Regions from separate parts of the Homo sapiens genome. Here region 1 is linked to region 2. Evidence: fine-mapped expression QTL. A gene starts in region 2. The other region holds a variant in brackets. All regions are shown on one strand. Distances are from middle to middle.

The links.
Region 1: its variant is fine-mapped to the expression of ZMIZ2 in whole blood (INTERVAL, PIP 0.91).

What each region holds. Positions count from the first base shown.
Region 1 is chr7:44,772,887-44,775,795 of GRCh38, reverse strand. No RefSeq gene overlaps it. Among named protein-coding and RNA genes, the nearest start is that of PPIA, 22 kb to the left of the region's middle. The variant C/T (reference allele first, on the strand shown) is at 1,223.
Region 2 is chr7:44,747,625-44,750,533 of GRCh38, reverse strand. ZMIZ2 (zinc finger MIZ-type containing 2) reads right to left here and starts at 1,687. Exons shown (of 19, transcript NM_031449.4): 1 at 1,543-1,687. RefSeq lists silencers at 1,383-1,432, 1,443-1,552, 1,663-2,192.

The DNA.
Region 1 (2,909 bases), 25 kb before region 2:
ACTCAATTACCAATCCTATCACAGTAGACTGGCAGGCACTTCCTTAACCAAACCAGCACATGTTCACTGGATACCTCCATGTCCCACTTCACCCTGCAGGGTGCACTTCCTTAGCCAGGACATTCACAGGCTGAGTGGACATGATAACACCCAGACAAGACAAGCAGGAGGTGTGTTTGCTCCCTTTGTTCCAGGGTTAATTTCTTTGACAAATATTGCCAGCACTGGAGCATATCAGGATGACACTGCCCTCATGGAGCTTACAGTCTAGCCAGGAAACCAGGTGAAAAATGAAAGTCTCCTCAGGCCAAAAATGTTTAATCAGGCTCCAGCCTTATCTTTCAAGTAACAGGAAATACGGTAATAAAGGAAAGAGTAAATGACACCAGGAGGGAACGCATAGGGGACATTCTACAAGAAACTCCTGAATTGTGCGAAAAGATCAATGTAATGAAAAAAAGACTGTTTTAGATTAAAAGAGACTAAAGAGACACAAAAGCCAGGTGCAAAATGTGAGTGTTGATCGGATTCTGTTGAAAAAAGTTATAACTGGAACATGCGAATATAATAAATGATGCCATGGCATTACTCTCCGTATCCACCGATTCTGCATCCACAGATTCAACCAACTTCAGATCAAAAATATTTTGGGGGAAAATAAAAATAATACAACAATAAAGATGATACAGATGAAAACAATATAGTATAACAACTATGTACATTGTCTTAGGTATTATAAGTAATCTAGATATTATTTTAATTTTAATGTTTTTTAAAATTTTACTTTTTTTTTTTTGAGACAAGGACTCACTCTGTCACCCAGGCTGGAGTGTGCAGTGGGGCAATCTCAGCTCACTACAACTTCCACCTCTGGGGCTCAAGTGATCCTCCTACCTCAGCCTCCTGGGTAGCTGGGACTACAGGTACACACCACCACACCTGGCTAATTTTTGTATTTTTTGTAGAGACGAGGTTTCACCATGTTGCCTACACTGGTCTTGAACTCCTGAGCTCAAGCAATCTGCCTGCCTTGGCCTCCCAAAGTCCTGGGATTACAGGCGTGAGCTGCTGCGCCTGGCCTAGAGATGATTTAAAGCATACAGCAGGGGTAGAAAGGGTAGGAGGAAGTGGGTAGACAGAGATTTGTTAAAGGATATAAAATTACAGCTAGATAAGTGGGCTAAGTTCTAGTGGTCTATAGCATTTTAGGATGACTGTATTA[C/T]ATCATTTCAAATAGCTAGAAAGAGAATATTGAATGTTCCCAACAAAAAGAAATGATAAATGTTCCAGATAAATATGCTAATTACCCTGATCTCATCACTATACATTATATGTATCAAAACATCACTATGCACCCTATAAAAGTGTACTTGTTTATATCAATTAAGAAAATAAAAGAAAAAAATGTAAATAAGGCATAGAGAAAGATATGGAAATACTATGGCACTTTATATACAGGACTTGAGCATTCGTGTATTTTGGTATCCACAGGAGGTCCTGGAACTAATCCTCCATGGATACCAAGGGATGATAGTATTGTTAATTTTCTTAGCTGTGACAATGGTAATGTGGTTATAAATGAAAACTTCCTGGCTGGATGTGGTGGTACATGTCTGTGATCCCAGCACTTTGGGAGGCTGAGGTGGGCAGATTGCTTGAACCCAGAAGTTCGAGACCAGCCTGGGCAGCAGGGTGAAACTCTGTCTTTACAAAAAAAAAAAAAAAAATAGCCAGGTGTTGGGGTGTGTGCCTGTAGTCCCAGCTACTTGGTAGGCTGAGGTAGGAGGATTGAGGTGGAGGCTTCAATGAGCTGTGATTGCACCACTGCACCCCAGCCTTGGTGACAGAGCAAAGGAAAAATAAAACTTAAATTTTTTTCCAACATACATACCGAAGTATTTAGAGATGAAGTATTTATTTTGTCTGCAACTTACTTTCCAAAGTTGGCAACAAAAAAAAGTGTGTGCATAAAAAAAATAGATACATGGAGAAAGAGAGAGCATGTAAACGAACATGGCAAGATGTTAACAATTGGTGAATCTCTAGGTTATGTGGGTGCTCACTGCACTATTCTTTTAAATTTATTTTTATTTTTGTTGTTTTTCAGAGACAGGGTCTTGCTCTATCACCCAGGCTAGAGTGTAGTGGCACCAAGATAGCTCCCTGCAGCCTCAAACTCCTGGGCTCAAGTGACGCTCCCTTCTCAGCCTCCCAAGTAGCTGGGACTACACAGGTGTGCTCCACCACACCTGGTTAATTAAAAAAATTTTTTGTAGACACAGGGTCTCACTTTGTTGTCCAAGCTGGTCTTGAACTTCTGGATTTTGGCGATCCTCCTGCCTTGACTTCACAAAGTGCTCGGATTACAGGTGTGAGCCACTGCACTTGCCATTGCATTACTTTTTAACTTTATTAAAATAAAGAGTTGGGGCCGGGGCCAGGTGCGGTGGCTCACTCCTGTAATCCCAGCACTTTGGGAGGCCTTGGCGGGCGGATCACTTGAGGTCAGGAGTTCATAACCAGCCTGGCCAACATGGTGAAACCCCATCCCTACTAAAAATACAAAAATTAGCAGGGCTTGGTGGCACACGCCTGTAATCCCAGTACTCAGGAGGCCGAGTACTGTAATCCCAGTACTCAGGAGGCCGAGTACTGTAATCCCAGTACTCAGGAGGCTGATTCGCTTGAATCCAGGAGGCGAAGGTTGCAGTGAGCCGAGATCGCGTCACTGCACTCCCACCTGGAGGACAGAGTGAGACTCTGCTTAAAAAAAAAAAATTAGCCAGGCGTGGTGGTGTAAGCCTGTGGCCCCAGCCACCTGGGAGGCTGAGATGAGAGGAGTGCTTATGCCCTGGAGGTCAACGCTGCAGTGAGCTGTGATTGCACCACTGCACTCCACCTGACAGAGT
Region 2 (2,909 bases):
AGGTCACACATCAGGACTCACTGTCTCCAAGATTGCAGGGTCAGGATCCAACCCAGGTGACAATGGAGTCAAAGGGTATTGAAGAAATGATGGCTGTGGAATGTTGCAGGAGCGGGGTCCTTGGTAGCAAAAAGTGGGGTACTCACATATACAGGTAGCTGAAAGTCCTGCCCCCTCTACCTGTAAGGCCACAGTACTAAAATGTCTAAGCGTGGGGCTAAGTCAGGATGCAGAGTTCATCAAAAAGTCCAGGAATAAGCAATGGCCCAGGCATGAGACATTTCAGTGAACAGCTGAAGGGACAACCTTAACCTGGCATCAGTTTACAATGTGTAAGATGGATATCTGGTAGCATCCTAGGACTGAGGACACATGACCACCTTCATGTCATCAGCCCTTGGGAGCTCAATCCCAATAATCAGGATGCTCCCCAAACATCTTAGGCCTGTCCTTCAGAAATCTACAACCGGCAACTGTCACCTGCTTGTTCTCTTCATTTACACTTCCAGCTTGTAACTATCCCCTGGGCATGACAAGGGCTAGAGGTCAGTACCTCTGGAAGTTAAGATTCCTTCACTTCTCCTGTTTCCACACTAAGCATCAAGGGATGCCCTCTGGTTCTAGCTTGCCAGAACTTGGTGGTGAGTCTGTGTCCATCCTATCCGTAATCACCACGGTCTCAGACCAAGTCACATGTTCCGTGTGTGTCCCTGTGAAATCTGCGATGACACAAATTAAAGACACCACCATGGATGTTCTGTAATACTGGAAAGAGGGTACCCTAGGGAGAAGGAGAGGCAGAACACTGCAGGGCAGAGGGTCCAGGGAATGGGAGGAGAGACACGGTAGGTGGAGGGGTAAACAAGGCACCGGGTGGGGGTGCCGCGGTGAAGGACACCTGGCACTAGGGAAGACAAGGCACCTCAGGGGAGCAGGGCATCCTCACGCCTGAGCTTCAGTATGTCCAGTTTGGAAAGGGGTGTCCCCATCAAAACTGGCAGCTGGGGGCTGGCCGCTCAGCGTCGTTCAGCCCAGGAGCGGAACAGCTCCTCCGCGAGCAGGTGACGGCCTCAGACGGCCCCCACATCGCCGTGCTGGTGGGCACGTAAGTAGGAGCGGAGGGGCGTACCATGTAGGTGAGACTGCCTGGCCCCAAAGCTAGGAACGATCAGGTTGGAGCGAAGGCCCGGCCAGCCTTCATCGCTCAGGAGAACCCCGAGCGCCGCTTACACCCCTCGGCCAGCCTCCAACAAAGACTCAGGGGAGGGCTGGATGACCCTGACGCCCACGGGGCCGAGCCTGCCCAAGACCACGACGCACGCGTGGCAGGTGCCGGCAGGTGGGCGGCAGAGCCTCTAGCCCCAGCCCAGCTGTGAACCCTACCGTGGCGCCGCAGCGGAACCGGGGCGCCCCGGGCGACCAGCTACACCTGCCTGCCCGCCCGCACCTGCCGGCCCGCACCTGCCGCACCTGCCTGCCCCCGCCGGCCCACACCTGCCTGCTGGCGGCGTTGCCAGGGGCCACCCCCAGGACCCCGCTCACCTCCGCCCGGCCTGGCCCGGCCCCTCGCCGTGGCGGCCCCCGGCCCGCGCCGCTCCATGCGCTCAGCCCGCCCTCCGCGCCGCCCGCCGCCCCGGGGCCGCCGCCACCCGCGCCATCGCGCCGCCGCCCGCTCCGAGGGCACAATGGAGCCGCCGCCGCGCCGCTCATGCATATGCATGACGCCGCGCAGCCGGCCCCGCCTCCCAGGCCAGAGCAGCAGAGCCCCGAGCCGGCGCTCGGGGCGGGGGCGGCCGCGAGCCCGAGCGGCCCAAAGCGGCAGGGTGGGGCCAGGGCCGCAGGTGGCTGGGCGGGCAGGAGACGCAGCCTGATCGCGACCTGCGCCCCCAGCCCCCTCCACACCTTTCTGAACGCGGCGTCGGCAGAGCCACTGCGCTCTTCCTGCTCGCAGTCCGCCGGGAGCGGGGCGGGGCCGGGCGGCGGAGGCGGGGCCAGGACGCCGGGGCGGGGCCGAGTGGAAGGCGGGGCCAAGGTGCCGGGGCGGGGTCGGGAGGAGGAGGCGGATCCAGAGAGCCGGGGTGGGGCCAGGGCTCGGGGCGGGCCCCGGCGGAGGAGGAAAGGAAGAGTGAGTCCTTGCCCTTCCCCCACCCGCCCCGCCCGCGCCCCGCCCGCGCCCCCCCTGCTTCCTGGGAGTCCATTGCTCTGGCCCGGCGGGCGGGGACACGACTGGGAGACAGAGAGACCCAGGGTGCCACTTTTGGGAGGGGATCTTATTAAAGGACTCCGGAAGCCCCTCGTTAAAGCAGAAAACTAAACTTAACAAGTTCGCTGTCCTCACTGCTCAGTTCTCTCTTCCCAGTGGTTCTCCTTCTGGAAAAAGTCACTATTGAGCTAGTCTAGCCTGATGGAATAGCCTCTCTGATCAGTTTCGATCTTTGAAATGCTATTATCAGCCTTTAAGTTATTCTTGACTTTTCCTACCGTAAGTTGAGGAAGACCACATTCTCTCAACTACCCATAATTAATTTTTCTTAATTGTGGTAAAATACACATAACGTAAAACTTACCATCTTAACTGTTTCCAAGTGTAGTTCTGTGGCACCAAGTACATTCACATTCTTGTGCAACCACCAACCGTCTCCAGGACTTTTTCATCTTCTCAAATGGAAACTCCATACCCAGTAAACACTAGCTCCCCATTCTTTCCTCCTCCTAGCCTTTGGCATTCACTATTCGTCTCTAAATTAGACTACTCTAAGGACATCGTATAAGTGGAATCATACATTATATGTCTTTTTGTGACAGTCTTACTTTAGTTAGCACAGTGTCCTCACTTCCATCCATGTTGTGGCATGTGTCAGAATTTCTTTCTTTCTTTCTTTCTTTCTTTCTTTCTTTCTTTCTTTCTT